Linked DNA regions of Homo sapiens: region 1 is linked to region 2. The links come from fine-mapping of genetic effects on gene expression. Tissue or cell type: whole blood. Region 2 holds a variant in brackets; the other region holds the start of a gene. All regions are shown on one strand. Distances are from middle to middle.

Region 1 (8,104 bases), 560 kb before region 2:
CCGGCATCCTCTGTAGGCTCCCGCCTCCGCGAGGGTCTGGGTCACCCAGCTCCGGCTCGCCCCGCTGGCGGAGGTGGGGGGCGGGCCAGGGGCTCACAGGACCCAGCACTTGGCACCGGAGGCTTGGGGAGGGGGCTGGGGACTGATGGATTCGGCCTCCGGACTCCACGCCTGGCGAAGAAACGCTGGAGAGGATGCCACCTGCTGGCATCCCGCCGGCTTGCACGGTGGGCACAAGAGACCTGGAGCCAGCCTGGATGTGCAGAAACCCAGAATTCGGGCGGTTTTCCAAGTTGCTGGCTTTCGGCTGTCTCTGTAGGGCTGCCGCCTCCACCGACTGTCCAGAGACCCCTTCCCCCGCGCGCCGCCCCCGGACGCGAAGGCTTCCAGCAGGGGCGGCGGTCTCTCTCCTCTCCCCTCTTGCAGCGCACTCCGAGGTCTAGGGACTCTCCGCGCTTCTCCATCAGGTGGAGCCGTCGGCTCCTCGCCGCCTCCCTCCTCCTCCCTCCCCCGGAGCGAACCGCGCGCAGGCAGCCTTGCAGCGCCAGGAGGCTAACCGAGCCCCCGGAGGAGGTGAGGCCGCGGGCAGCCGGGCGGAGATGGCGGGGCCGCCGTCGAGGCTGGCGCCAGAGCCCGACCGGCTGTGGGTCCTGCAGGTACTGCTCGCGTTCTCTGCCCCACGTGGTGGCTGCTGAAGATTGCCGTGGGTTTTCCGGCACTCAGGCTTGATACGCCTCCTGGTCCTTTTAGAGGCGGGCAGCTCATCACTTAATCCAAGCTTTTTTTTTTTTCTTTCTTTCTGCGGGAGACCGGAGGTTACAGGGAGGGAGTAGAGGGGAGTGGAGAGGGGAACAGGCCCAGCTGGCTCGTTGGTGGGGGTGAGGGGGATGCCTGGAGCCAGTAAGGGGGCCATGAGGCCAGTGTTGGGGGCCAATGGGAGAGCGAAACAAGATCCTTCCAACCTGGATCTCCCAGGCCCCCCTCTTCTTTCCAAGAGTCAGTGCGAGTGTGGAGTGCAGACACCTGTACGTGTGCCTGATTATTGCGTATTGCACACTTCACTAGCCTTGTGACCCTGGTTTTGTAATAGTTCCCTCGGGGGCTGAATTAAGCAAATCTGGGCCCTGGGCCATTGAGGAATTAGCACTCAAAATTAAACAACAGCTTAAAGGATAAATCTTTAGTTAAAACGTCAAATGTTGCTACCTTTGATAGAGAATCTGCATTCTAGTATTTGTCCTATTCCCTGCAAGAATGGCACGCAGACACCTGAAATTTCTCCCCAACAACCCCATAGGCTTAATGCAAAGCTACTACTAAGGTGACGGCGCTATACATAGAGTTATTTTCAGTCTTACTGTGTTATTTGGCATATGTTATTTAAAATTATTTTTCATCTCCTCTGTGTGTTTTTGATTTGCCTCTTCCATTTATTGCATGATCTGTTACACCAGGCTAATGGACTCAGGCTCAGCTGACACTGCTTCAGTAACTTGTTTGTTAATTTAGCTAATGGGCTGCCTCTTTTGTGTCCTTTTAGTTTCTGTTGCTCAACATTTCTGTTTCTCCTCCCAAAGTTTGCTTACAAATTTCCCTTTGCTGTGTTTAACAGCCTCTAAGGGATGCAGTTAAATAAACTATTAAGTTAAGAATAGAAAAGTCAACAAAGCAGACACCTACTAATTTGTAGATCTTTGGTGTCAACTACCAGATGTCAGCTCCTACTAGCACACTTCTATATGCCCCTGCTTCTTTCTTTCTTGTTCACAAATACCAAGGGATAATTTTTTAAAGTTAACATCCGCATGGAAACTTGGAGTTGGAATGTGCCTTGTAGTGAGCAGAGTCCTCAAAAGATGTGCTACTACTGAAAGAGGAAAGGCTAAGAGTTTCCCAAAAGACCTCCCCAAGGTCCAGGGACTGAAGACAGTAATGACTGATTTTAGAATTGAATGCTAAATGGCACATGTCAGGGGAGCGTCTTTCATTTTCCTCTCCTCTCTCTTTACCTCTCCTTCTCACAGTGCATAACGTTGAATATTTTTCTGTGTTGTTTTGTTATGTCCTTAGAGTTTGCATCTTGTGTGTGTACTCTGCTTGCACACTAGATTATGAGCTTCTGAAGGCATGGTCTGTGCCTATTATTTTGCTTCCCTCCATGGCCTGCTTATACCAAGCATGCCTAAATGTCTATTAAGTAAATAGACCCAGATAAATTCATGTTGATATCCTGGAGGAAACCGAGTTTGATTTGAGTGTGGAGTGTGAATTTCATGACAGGTAAAAGGCTTGAAGATCCTTAGGACGCAGTTGTCTATGACCTTGGCCTCTCCTTTGCAATTGGACTCACAGCACCTCTTGGAGAAAAGACAGGCTCAGAGTGATGGAGCGCTCATTAGAGGAGAGGCTCTGAATGCAAAGACAGGCTGCTCCCCTGTCCTCGTTAGGAAATGCACAAACCAGGATAATGATAATAAATGGGTGTGTGTCACAAGCCTACTTGCCTTCCCTTTAGTTCCTGCATTTTGTCTTCCAGGAGCAGTGCAAAGCAAACTAAGATCCAAATGTTCAGGTTTTATTACCTACCCCCCCCCCCCACCACAACCACCCACCCACCCACAGGAAACTCTCAGAAATGCAAAGCATGCTTATCTCTTCTCCAACTCCGAGCCTCCCGCTGCACACATTGGCCAAGTCCTTCCGAGGGAAAGATGCGCACCCCCCCTTCCTAGTTCCCTTTCAGCCCAGTTTCCAGTTCCTTTGCAAAGGCAGGGCGTGCATGTTTTTGTGCACATGCATGTGGATAGTCATCCTTAACTTCACTGTTAAACAGGACATCGTGTGGACAAAAAGTCACAGCTCCACTCCAAGCTCAAGATGCCTTTTGGTCAATAATGGTGACAAAAGCTGAATTTTTCCCTATTTAGGGAAAAGAAAGAACACAGCCTTTTCCCCCACTGTCCGTTTTGCATAGATCTCCTTTTTCCGAGTGTTTCCTCTTTAATTATGACCTGTCTCCCCTCCCTCTCCCCTCGCCTCAGCTTCAGTGAAAGGAGTCCTTCTGTCACTCGTCACTAGCTCGCTCGCTCACTGTGGGAGGAGCCCGCCTGAGGAAGCCGTGTGCCTGGGATGCCAAGAGCCAGAGAATGGATCTTCTCCGAGTGGGGACATTGCTGACAATCCCGGCTTCCCGAGGCGGCTAAGAACAGGCAGTTTGTGTCGGCTGGCTGCAGATACCCAGAGGCACAAAGAGACCGAAGCCACCCGGAGGGACCCACGGACGGACAGATGGTAGGCGCGAACCCGAGAGGACCGGCGGAGGCTGAGCACCGAGAGCCGCCAAGGAAGAGAAACTAACCACAGCCAAGTTACCCCGCCGGCTTTCCTTCGCTGCGCTAAGGAATGAAACCCTTCCAGCTCGATCTGCTCTTCGTCTGCTTCTTCCTCTTCAGTCAAGGTAGGACCCCTGCGCTGCTGGAGTTGGAAGAAAGTCGGCTGGGTTGTCAGGGCGCGGGAGGCTGTGGGCAGGAACGTGGGCAGGCTTCGGGAACTCGGACTGATGGATGCGTCTCTCGGTGCCGGGCTGAGATGCTCTGGCATTGCCTCTTCGCCTTTGCGAATGCAACAAAATGGTACTGTTTATTTTCCTTTGGAAAGAAGGGGTATGGGAGGGGAGGGGAATGACTTTCTCCTCTCACTTGTCAATATCCAGCTCAAACTCTCCAATGCAAATGAGTTCTTTATGCTTCTGGTATGTTAATTAGGTAGTATCTCTGTGGTTATGCCGCTCTGAACTTCTGGGCACCTCCTCTCCTTCAGACCCAGGCCAGGGAAGGAGACGGCAGGGAGGGAGAGCTTGGTTTAGGTGGATATTTCAGCTTGAATAGGGTTTGACTTGCACAAGTGTATTCAAAAGCGAATGTGTGTGGTTTGCACCGTTGAAAAGGGGGTTGCAATTACAGAATGTATTGTGGGGGGTAATTTGCAGTGGTTGGGAAAAGCTTGTAAAGAGTTTCATTGAACGTCATCGAGTTCCCTAAATTAGGTTGAATTCTGAATCCTACACAGCACTGAATTCAGGGTATAAAATGAAATTTCGCCCGTGGTGCTGATGGTTTCCTTTCTGCAGCCTAGCAGGGGCAGAGAAGCAGGTGGACTCTCCGGAAAGAACTTTGCCACCTCTAGGCTCCTTGCCACTGGGAGCCCTGGGGCTGGTAGTGGTGCAGAAAGGAGAGGGAAATTCGGGAGAGGGAATGTGAGTGCCTAGTTGGCCAAAGGCATCAAAAGTCACCTGTGGAATTGAGTTTGGAGGGGCAAGTACATGGGCTCCTTCCCGCTCTTTTGGAATGCCAATGCACCTCTGCCATCTGAGGCTGCATTTGTGCCAGCCAACACAGCTCTTAGAGGTGCAAGACTCAGAAAAAATCCACAACAGAGCACGTCCATCTGTTGATTAAATGAAGGGTAAAAGTTTTCGAGAAAGCAAAGCACTGCCATGGGTGGCTGGCTTTGCAAGCAAACAGCATGTCTTCTGTTTCTCCCCTGTCGGGGAGAAGCCAAATATAAGCAAAAACCTGGCTTCCTTCTTCTGCTCTTCCACCCGTGCTTGTGGTCACTGCAGACTTTCTCCTTATCTGTGCAGTTCAAACTTTGCTTCTGGTCCTCCTGATGAAACCGAAGGGGCTCCTTCTTCATATTTGTATGTGCATACTAATGCCTGTGTATAATGATAATGTATGTACACACACACACACACACACACTCATGTATTCATATGGTTGTGTGCTTCTCACCAAGGCTCCCTACAGCAGCAGGAAGATAAATTGCCTTCCCCAGAGTTTCAGGCTGAATGAATAAGAACTCTCTCAGAACACTGGTATAGAGACAGGTTCAGTTATATTACCATTTGGTAAGATTACCCTCTTTCTTGGATGTGTATGTGCTTGCTTATGAGCACACACACACACACACACACACACACACACACACACACACTCCCATTCGTCTTTGCTTCTTACCAGTTCACTCAGGAAGTTTTGATATAGAACCCCTGAGAAGGAGGGAATCTTCCAACCAACCCCCCGTAAACACACAAACTCACATTTGCATGGGACCAGTGCATGCTTTAATCAGCCTTTTGTGTAGTTAGAAGCTTGATCCGTGATACTTATGTAGATTGGCATAAGAAGGCTATAGGTGTCTAAGTACCTCCCTGGCCGTCTGAATCATTACAGTGTACATCTTCTGTTGTGCTTATTTCTTTCTTGGTCTGGAGCTGTTTCTTGACTGCTTCATGTGAATCTTTAAATATTTACCTATGGAGGTTAAATGCTCTGTTTTATCTACCCCGAGTCCTGAGAGCGCTAGGAAGAAACCATAACATCATGCAGTTCTTAATGCCTTGTGCTCCTGGAGTGTTCTGAGCTTGGCCATCACTGTCCACCCTACCAAATGGTAGATACCTGGTCCAGAGGCTGGAAAACAGGTCTAAACAAAAATGAGGAGACCCAAGTGGACATGGCTGGTCAGATACCCTGCATCCCTGTACATGGTGTGCTTCTTGAATAGACAGTGTCCGACTATGGGAATCAAGGGGTCCAGCCATCAAGTGGGAAGGTGTTTTATGGACTTCACTGCAATGTGATATGGTTATCTTTTGCCTTGATCTGTGGAAATTTGTTTATGTGGATGTTGTTTTGAGCATTATGAATTCCCCAGAGGATTCTATTTGACCATCCTCACATATATGCTTAGCTCATGTACTGTGCCCCACCTCTACCCAGTGTCATGCATTCATCAACTTATTGGATAGAACGCATCCATGTCTAACAGGTCCTGGGAGGTCTAGCCCACATGGCTCTAAATGGCTCCACTGTGATCCCCCAGAATGAGGCCTGAGGTTACACCCCCCCACCCGGCACCCTCACACAGCCACCTGCTTGACCCCTGCCTCCTGCATGCTGGGATGCCTCTCCCAGGAAATGTGAAGAGACCCAGGGGATGGCCTTTCCCTCAGAGACAACAAATGTCCAGGGTTGTTTTTAGTGCCTTATCTGGCACTCCGATGACATGGCCATCTGCTGTCCAACACATCTCACAGTGGGAATCTGCATGGCACTTAGGAGTTTCTGGGAACAAGATTCCCAAGCTCCATGCTCCCAGTATCTTGGTCCCCGTGCAGAGAGAGTGCTCCAAGCAGTGCTCTCAAGATACAAATAAACTCTTAAAGTCCGTTCCAGCCATCCTTTTCTTCCTAATTTGTCAAATGTTTGTTTACCTTTACTTTTTCTTATAACCTTTTAGAGAGACAGAGAACAGAAATCAATGTATAATTAATATCAGTAATATGGTGGGTCCCTATTCTTTGAAAGTTTGGGCTTTTCATGTAGATTGAGATCAAGTATTTCTTTATCTTTCTTAAGGTGGCAGTAGTAAGGCTAAATAACATTCCTCCCGATTCCACCCCCGCCAGAGTCCCCAGGCCTGGCTCCCAACAAGGGAATGGAGAGCTGCCAGTGTGTACTGCTTGTGGGCTTCTCCCTTGCCGTGGATGCCTCTTCCCTCAGCTGTCAGGACGGTCATGCTTTGTTCAGAGAGGGATAATGTCACAGCACAATTTGCCTCCTGCTGAGAATAGACATGTTCTGCCCCTGGGTGAAAAAATAATCGATTCTTTTGTCATCCATAAACTTAGAACTTGCTATATTTTTTCCTCTTTATCATTTCAGTTCACCCACAACTATTTCCTTCTGTGCCCTCCTTAAGCTTCAAGCCCCATCCCATCCAGCCTGCACATGCACAGCTTAGGTAGCTTGGAGGGAATAAGGTCCTAGAGGACTGATGACTCCCTGCCTCCAGGGAGATCTCTGATCTCCACCTCGGAGACAGGGGAGATAGACAGGGGAGCCACAGTGGCAAGAACTTGGCGCCTTCTACTCCAGACACTCGCTCTTAAGAAAGGTGGTCTCTTCCCTACTCTCTGGCATTTTGCTCTGGCATTCCTAGAGCGTCCTGTCCTGCCTTGTGATTCTGTGGTTGTGAAGGTTCTAATTCTGCTGAACCCAGATCTTTTGGCTTTGCATGCACACTGTACTGTATTGGGGTAAAAGTGAAAACTTGCATTTACCTGTTAATGGCATCCCTGAGCTAAGGATGCATTTGAGGTACCATCTCCCTACTGGGAAGAATCTAAGCAGCCCACTTGCTCTCCTGCCTGGCTGGAAACACCAAAAGGGGCTGTCAGCAGCTGTCAGAGGGCAGAGGGTCATGGTGATCTGAATCTCCTAGGGAATAGAAAGGCATCTCGTAGACAGAAGGGTAAAATAGAGTGAACAGAGGGAGCCAGCCAGGGTGAAGGGAGCCATGGAGATGACAAGAAGCATGGAAAAGGAGGAGCCACTTCAAGAGGCTTGAACTAGCAAGGAGTTCCCTTGGGAGGGGCAGGGTTGGGGAGGCATCGGAAGAGAGCCTGAACACATCAGAGGTGGCCTAAAGAATGGAGGGATCATAGGGGGTACAGGCAGAGAAGGAATCAGCAAACAAAGTGGGGAGTGAACAGCAACTTTGGAAACACTTACACTCACTCAGAAATGTCATAAAACAAAAGATGAGGGAAGTAATGTGTGTTTCTCCCTCCTACCAGAACCCCATGTGGGATGACGTCTTGTCTAGAGGAAGAAGAATCAGTTCTTTTGTGCCAGAAGGTCAATACACAGCTGCCAAGGGTGTGGGACCACTTCTTTAACAAATCTTCGGGTGGGGAAACTGGGGCATGTCTGTTGGAAATGGGGGTGGTTGCATGTCTGTATCCCAGTAGGGAGTCCTCAGTTGCCAGCCAGACCTATTGAGGATGGAAAAGAAAGTCCCTAGGGGGAGGACGAGTGGGGTGGGGTCAAGGCCTTCACATTGCTCTAAGAGGATACCATGGGGTCCCCCTCTTGGGTGTACAGAGGAGGATTTGGCTTGGAACAGGCAGCGGCAAGCTAGGCATGGTACCAAGAAGCAGCCCTGCCTGGTGTGTGCCTGTGTTGGTGGAAGCCAGGGCCAGCAGGAGATGGGGTGGAGCAGGAGATTAGGCCCGAAGATGCAGTTTTTCTTTTTTGTT
Region 2 (8,104 bases):
CTGGGGGAGGAGGCGTGGGTCACGAGAGCCCTGCCTCCATCACCCTGCATCTCAGAGCCCCCATCCCACCCCAGAGGTGCACCAGTCACTCGATTCCAGGTCATGAAGGCTGAGGCTGGAGGAGATGGCAGCTAGCTTGAAGGCAGAGGCATGAAGATCCCAAGAGCCCAGATTTCCAGGGCAGGAGGAGGGCCCCTGCCCGCCACTGGGATGGAGGGGCTTCCGCAGCTTTCTAGCACCGGGCGTGATCCAGACAGAGGGAAGGGGATGAGAGCCGTGGGGGTAAATCCAGGCAGAACCTGGTCCCCAGCACCTTCTTCCCAGGCCCCACGCTGCCGACCACCTCCATGGGCCCAAGAGAGGCGAAGCCTCAGGGAGAGTGGTCTCCTCCTTGCTTCCTGAGTCCCACTCCCAGATCCCAGACCCCGCCCGGACATAAGACTTAAAATGGAAGCGACTGAGGTGGCACAAGTACCCCACTGCCTGCCTCCCCCCAGTCAAGGTCTAGGGGGAAAAGGAGGCAGCAGCAAGGAGGATCCCAGAGCTCCCCACCCACCTGAACCTGTCTTCTTCTTCCTCACATCGCAGTTGGGCCCCGGATGACCACAGAACCCCAATCCTTGCTCGTGGATCTGGGCTCTGATGCCATCTTCAGCTGCGCCTGGACCGGCAACCCATCCCTGACCATCGTCTGGATGAAGCGGGGCTCCGGAGTGGTGAGGCTGCAGCTCAGACCTCGGGGCACCTCTGGCAGGGGGCGGGGACAGTGGAGCAAGAAGGAACTGCTGCCCAGGCCCCTCTCACTATTAGACTGGGGGAGTCAGCCTCCAGTGTAAGCCACAGGGAGAAAGATCCCAGAAAGAGGAGGGGGAACCCAGGCACCCCCATGTGCCTGTCCCACCCTGAGCACATTCAGCCATTGCACTCTTGCCCTGTCCTAAACCTTACAAGAAAAGTAGGTGGTCACCAATGTGCTGGGAGGGAAGGCACTAGAAAGGCTTTTCAAGTGGGCACAGTGGCACACACCTGTAGTCCCAGCTACTCAGGAGGCTGAGGTGGAAGGATCACATGAGCTCAAGAGTTTAAGTCCAGCCTGGGCAACGTAGCAAGACCTTGGGGAAAAAAAAGAAGAAGAAAGGAAAGAAAGAAAGGAAGAAAGGAAGAGAGAGAGAGAAAGAAAGAAAGAAAGGAGAAAGAAAAGAAAGAGAGAGAAAGAAAAGAAAGAGAAAGAAAGAGCCTTTTAAACTTCCCCCAAATAAAGCCACCGTTAGCCTTGGACTTGGGCTTCACTTTCCTGTGTTCCATTTTTTTTTTTTTTTTTTTTTTGAGATGGAGTTTTGCGCTTGTTGCCCAGGCTGGAGTGCAGCGGCGTGATCTTGGCTTACCACAAACTCCGCCTCCCGGGTTCAAGTAATTCTCCTGCCTCAGCCTCCTGAGTAGCTGGGACTATGGGTATGGGCCACCACGCCCAGCTAATTTTGTATTTTTAGTAGAGACAGGGTTTCTCCATGTTGGTCACACTAGTCTCAAACTCCCAACCTCAGGTGATCCGCCCACCTCGGCCTCCCAAAGTGCTGGGATTACAGGCGTGAGCCACCGTGTCCAGCCCTTGTGTTCCTCTTTTAAGACGTATATATTCTTCAGTGCATAAGAGATTGTCAGATGTCCTCACATAGGAAGGAACAGGGAGAGCTCCAGGTAGGGAAGCAGGGGGACCAGAAGGAAACCGACCTTTGTGTGGCCTGTTATGTAGCAGACGCTGCATTATCCTAGCAGCCTCCATACATAGAAAGGGAGCGTCTGAGAAGATAAGTAACTGACCAAAGAGACACAGGTGTTCACTGCTGGAGCCGGGATTCGAACGCAGACCAAGCTCATGCCAGAGCCTGTTTTCATCACTCCAAGCTATATCCCAAAGGGATCCTGAAAATGACTCTGAAAACAGGTCCAGGAGCCCCCAGAGAAGTTCAGCTGTAGGATCATGTCACCCATGGCTAGCCTGGGAGAGGAGAAGCCACCGCAGGTACAGGGAGGTTCCTGTAGGAGGAAACCTGGAAGTCCCCAGGCAGGCATCCCCCTCCTCCGGCACATGTGCCCCCACATGCCCCCAGCCCACAGGGCTGCGCCTGGGATGTAACATCCTCAGTCACACGGGGTGGCCTCTCTGCTGGTACAGTCTCCTCTGTACAGCCCACAGGCATTGTCTGGGCCAGGAAACTTTTGGCCTCTTTCCTCCCCACCTTGCTTCCTACTGAGATGCCGGAGACTGCCTCAGTTACCCCAGGCCAGCCTCTCAGCTGCCTTGTTCCCAGAGACAAGAGTGCACCCCTCCGCCTGCTCTTGGCATCTGAGCCTGCCAATTCTCCTAGGTCCTGAGCAATGAGAAGACCCTGACCCTCAAATCCGTGCGCCAGGAGGACGCGGGCAAGTACGTGTGCCGGGCTGTGGTGCCCCGTGTGGGAGCCGGGGAGAGAGAGGTGACCCTGACCGTCAATGGTAAGACCCTCGCTGGGGTGAGCCAGGCCTGAGGGAGGGAAGAAGGACCTCAGGCATCTTGGCACCAGGCATAGCCCCAAAGGAGCTGTCGCTGGCTCTGGGCCTTGCTGTCACCTCCAACTATGGGTAGACAACAATTAGGTCCACCTCCTGGATTCCCCGTCAGACCCAGGCTGAGGGAGGAAGGGCCTGGGTAGTTTTCTAGTCACCTCTCTTTTTGTTTGTTAGCTTTGAAGGGGTCTCAGCCCTGAGAGTGGTGGGTGATGAATTTTATCCTGGCCAGGAAAAAAAGCATCAGAGGTCACTAGGTGGCCAACGTGTCCACCCTTTCATCCACTCACCATGGCCTTGGCCCGTGAGAATTTTTTGTTGGTTTTTTGCTTTTTGAGATGGAGTCTCGCTCTGTTGTCCAGACTGGAATGCAGTGGCACGATCTCAGCTCACTGCAACCTCACCTTCCTGAGTAGCTGGGACTACAGGCACGTGCCACTACGCCCAGCTAATTTTTGTATTTTTAGTAGAGACAGGGTTTCACCATTGTTGGTCTCCAACTCCTAACCTCAAGTGAGCCACCTGCCTCGGCCTCCCAAAGTGCTGGGATTATAGGCGTGAGCCACCTCTCCTGGCCCCATGAGAATTTAAGAGAGCATCTCTGCAGCTCCTGATCAGCCTCTTCCCAATGCGTGTGAGTCACCCAGCCAGGGAGCCCTGTCACCGTCTCCACGAGGCCACGTGTTCAGGGGCCCCCTTGAGGGCAGGGGGCATGTCTTATTATATATAATAAAAATAATTGCAGCAGGGGAGTATTTTCACGGTGGGAGTTAGTAGATGAATGACTGTTACATGAAATATGTAGGGACAAGGGCATCACACCAGGCCTGAATGATGGGGTGTAGACAGTCATGGAGAAGCTGAGACCTGGCTCAGGCCAGACCCAAGAAGGTTGTGGCACCAGGACGCAAATGCGGACGTCCCTGCCCTATCTGGTGCTTTGGCCACAGGCAAAAAGCAAAGCTGCCAGTTCGATTCCTCTGCCGTTTCCGAATGCTCCCCCCTCACCTCTGTCATGCCCACTGCCCTTTGGGAGGCCCCTGTTCCCACCATAGCCTGACTCAGATCAAAACCCCAAAGCTCTGGGACCCTGCAGGAACTGAACCACCAACAT[T/C]TGCAGGACATCTGGGTCCTGGCCCCAGAGCAGGGCCCTCCTGAGGTCTCCAAATTAGCTCGTGGGCTTCAGCTTCCTCTCTACCCAGAAAGCCACCTGCTGATGGCCTCATCTATTCTCCCCTTCGCTAGAAAACCAAAACCAGCTTGGTGTCTCCTCAGCCATACCTCTCTACTGTCTCCATTCACCAGCTCCCCCCACACTGCCCCGCATTTCCATTCCTCTCCCCCCACCCCAGAGTCGTGGCAGCCCCCAAGGGAGGCTGAGTCTACCCAGACCCCAGCACGTTCACAGCCACCTGTCCTGGCAGAGCCCTGAGTCGGAGCCCTCCTGCCTTTCCTGAGTGTCCCCAGGATGCCACCAATAAATTGGCACTGCAGGGCTAAAAATAACAGCATCTGATCGCGCCTCCGTATATCCATGGCAACACAGGCTGCAGCCTTTTCCTTTCAGCGCAGGTGTCTGACACTCGGCTCAGAGCTCCAGGCCCCAGTGAAATCAGCGGCCCTCCACACAGCCCGCGCCAGCCAGGGCACTCGGAAGTCAGGCTGTCTGTGCCTGCAGCCGGCTCTGCTCTGCTGGCCCTATGACCAGCCAGCCCGGGACCCTCACACTCACTCATGCACTCCAGGGCCCCCAAGCCTGGAGCATCAAATGAGCATTGGCGTTTCTGGGGAAAAGCAGGTGGATAAAGGAGGAGCTGACATCTGCTGTCACTTTAGACGTTCAGACATTTCCAAGGGAGATTTAAAGAGATTTCTTGAGGAGAGAATGCCCCCTGGGGAACACAGGCCGGGAGGGACATTTCTCTTGGACGGGGAGGGCACTGAAACCCGGGCCCTGGCGCTGACCAAGGTTGAATCTGCACTCTCCAGGTCTCTTTCTCTCCCCTCCTCTGCCTCCACCCCTGCCAGCACAAGCTCCCCGAGGCTTCCAGGCAGAGAAAAGCTGGAGGGATTGGAGGGAAGCAAAGAAGCTGCTTGTTTATTTCTTGACTAGGGTGGCCTCACACACCTGGAGGCAGGTGGATGAGTTCAGTGGCCCCGGAGGGGAGCGCACCAGACCTGCCAGGGGGCGAACTGTCTGCCCCTGCTTCTGCAGAGCAGGCAGAGGGAGGGGGGACGCCCAGTGGATGGGACCTGGGCATGGGCTGGAGGGAGCTGGTGATATGAAAGCATTCAAATGAGATCAGGTTTTTATCGCGACAAATCCCAGCCTTGGACAACTGCTGGCCAGCGCAGCAGTCCTTTGGGAAAGAAATTGGCACACACCTCAACCGATTTGGCTCAAATCAGGTATCTGCAGGAAGGGGAGAGAAATCTTACTAACCCTCACCCCATTTCCCTTTATCCTGGTTTTCATTTTCTTTTAAGAAGCAGATGCATTTGATGATGGCTTTTAGAATCATGAAAACCCCTCAGGGAATTCCTAGCTCCTGGGAAGCACAAGGAAAAGGTTTTGTGTGTGTGTGTGTGTGTGTGTGTGTGTGTGTGTGTGTGTTTTGTGTGTCTGTGCATGTTGGGTTTTTTGTTTTTTTTTTGTTTTTTTTTTTTGAGCTGGAGTCTCGCTCTGTCGCCCAGGCTGGAGTGCAGTGGCGCAATCTCGGCTCACTGCAACCTCCACCTCCCAGGTTCAAGCAATTCTCCTGCCTCAGCCTCCCAAGTAGGGAGGCTAAATAATAAATACTAAAAATTTTTGTATTTTTAGTACAGACGGGGTTTCACCATATTGGCCAGGCTGGTCTTGAACTCCTGACCTTGTGATCCACCCTCCTCAGCCTCCCAAAGTGCTAGGTTTCTAGGTGTGAGCCACCGCACCTGACCAGAAAAGGTTTTATATTATCATCACGTTTTAGTCCAGCAATAAAACAAAGCACCATCCGGTTCCTAAAACATCAATCTCCTCATCTCTTTGGGTCCTAGACCTGTTGGAGCTGAAGGATTTTTAGGAAGGAGGGCAGCGCTCAGCCCATTCTTAAAGCCATGGAGGGTCCCCCACGCCCACCTCACGCTGCCCCGAGCCCTTTTGCCTTCTCAAACTCAACAGAAGTCACTGGAGTGTCTACAGTACCTTTTCTCCCTTGGCTGAGAGCTACTCATAGAAATGCAAATCTGCTTTAATTAAGGTGGCTAATAAACAGCAATTATGTTTGCAGCAATTTTTGTTTTGTTCCTGCATAATTCTGTGTGTTCTCCAGATGCGTTGCTCCCGGCTGTCTTTCCTCTGGTATCTGCCATCTAAGTCCCAACTGTGACCCCAGGGATTGGAAAGGGAGCATGACAGTTTCCGTCCCTACTCCCATCCTTCAACCACCCAGCCCAGCCAGGAAGCCAGCAGAGCCCAGGCTAAGCTAGCTGCTCCTTCTTTTGTCTTTCACGGCCAGGCAGGCGTCACAGGGGAAAGACTTGGGTTAGGTAACAGGCGGAACTGGACAGGAGGCGCTGGGGAACAGGCTCCCCTCCACCAGGTGAACTCTCTTGGCTGTGCAATGTGGTGAATGAGACAGGCGCTCTCAGAACCTGACACCCATAAACATGTGCCACACTCTGTGATATGATAATATTGGGGTCAGTTTGGGAGCCATGGCCTCACTTGGGCAGTCTGGGTATGGACGTGGAGGCAGACAAGATGATGAACTGCAGGACCTCCTGAGACACAGGTGGGAGGAGGGCTGTGAACACGGCCAGCGCATGCATTCCCCCTGTCCGGGGTGATTCCCGCCCTAAGGAGAGGGACAGCAACCATTTCTTCCCGTTGGCCCGTCTGGCCGAGCAGCTCCCATTTGTTAGGCAAGGGCGCCCTCTACTGGATATCTGAGGAATGGCTCGCAGGGGTGCCGCTGGCTGAGGCGGGGGAGTCTTCCTTCATCTAGACACCTCCCCACCCCCTCTGCAGGCTTACCACCTCCTCCCTAAAGCTTTCCCCGTCCGCCAGATAGAATTATTCTCTCTCCTCTGAAGTCGGTTAGCACTTTATCTGCACCGCTCCTGTGGTACTAACACTCACCACCTTTTATTACAGTTATTTGTATCTTCTGGGGGTTCTGACTTAGAAGCATTCGCTCATGATCCCTTGAGAGGTTTATGACTGAATGCCTAATTTATCTCTGAGTCCTCTACCTTGCACTTTACCTTGCACATACAGGCCTTCGGCAAATGTTTGCTGAATGCTTGGATTAATGAATACACTTCTGAACCCACCCAAGAGGGCGCCAGCAGGGACGTGCCCTTCCCGGGTGCCTAATGGGACGCTGTTTCTCAACAGGACCCCCCATCATCTCCAGCACCCAGACCCAGCACGCCCTCCACGGCGAGAAGGGCCAGATCAAGTGCTTCATCCGGAGCACGCCGCCGCCGGACCGCATCGTGAGTGCTCCAGGGACGGCGGGCGGGGGCCGGGCCAGCAGCCCAACAGTCACTTTTGCCAATACCTGGGTGGCCAGCCAGGCGGTGCACACCTCCGAGGTTCCTCTTTCTTGCTGAGGAAAATTATACCTGCCTTGGCTGTCTTGGAAAAGCATCGTGAAGACACAATTGCAGGCCTTTCTCAGAACAGGCAGTGCTCTCCCAGGGTTCAGCTGCCATTCTGCTGAGCTCTGACATGAACGGCTCTGACCAAATTCCGCATCCTAAGGGCAGAGGGGCACACGAGGGTAGTGGAGAGAAAAGACAAGTGACTTCTTCTCTTCCTGGGCTCCAGGCCAGTCTTTAGCAAAATCTTAGAGCGCAGGTAATAGTTGGCAACCCCTTTCTGTGCCTCCTGGAGCCCTCCTTGCCAGGTCTCTGTGGCCTTTACTGTCCATGGTAGCCTGCCCTGTTGCCTATCAATCGTCCCCTCTAAAGTGACCATTCCATTCTCTCTCCCTTCCTCAAAGAACTTATCCCTGCAATGCAGCTAAGGCAACTGAGGAGTCCACCCTCAGCGCCTCCTACCAGCTATCTGCTTGGTTTTTTTGTTTGTGTGTTTTTTGGGTTTGTTTGTTTGTGTTTGTTTTTTGAGATGGAGTCTCGCTCTATCACCCAGGCTGGAGTGCAGTGACACAATCTCGGCTCACTGCAACCTCCACCTCCCAGTTCAAGCAATTCTCATGCCTCAGCGCCTCTTGAGTAGCTGGGATTACAGGCATCTGCCACCACACCTCGCTAATTTTTGTATTTTCAGTAGAGATGGGGTCTCACCATGTTGGTCAGGCTGGTCTCAAACTCCTGGGCTCAATCGATCCTCCTACCCCAGCCTCCCAAAGTGCTGGGATTACAGGCGTGAGCCACCATGCCCAGCCAGTATCTGCATTTTTTTAAAGGGAGGGTCTTACTGAGCAGGAGCCTCATGTCTGTAATCCCAGCACTTTGGAAGGCTGAGGTGGGAAGATCGACTGAGCCCAGGAGTTTGAGACCAGCCTGGGCAACATAGTGAGACCCTGTCTCTACAACAACAACAAAAAAA

The links. PIP is the estimated chance that this variant, and not a neighbour inherited with it, causes the effect.
Region 1: KIRREL3 starts here. The variant in region 2 is fine-mapped to the expression of KIRREL3 in whole blood (TOPMed, PIP above 0.99). The same link has a PIP of 0.9 or more in blood mononuclear cells.

What each region holds. Positions count from the first base shown.
Region 1 is chr11:126,995,808-127,003,911 of GRCh38, reverse strand. KIRREL3 (kirre like nephrin family adhesion molecule 3) reads left to right here and starts at 3,142. Exons shown (of 17, transcript NM_032531.4): 1 at 3,142-3,457. The coding sequence starts at 3,403. It overlaps KIRREL3-AS3 (KIRREL3 antisense RNA 3), which reads right to left and starts at 1,002. Exons shown (of 3, transcript NR_040078.1): 1 at 1-1,002.
Region 2 is chr11:126,439,371-126,447,474 of GRCh38, reverse strand. It overlaps KIRREL3 (kirre like nephrin family adhesion molecule 3), which reads left to right. Exons shown (of 17, transcript NM_032531.4): 9 at 589-716; 10 at 2,370-2,496; 11 at 6,926-7,026. Among named protein-coding and RNA genes, the nearest start is that of ST3GAL4, 88 kb to the right of the region's middle. RefSeq lists enhancers at 32-600, 1,714-2,267, 2,268-2,821, 4,244-4,926. The variant T/C (reference allele first, on the strand shown) is at 3,662.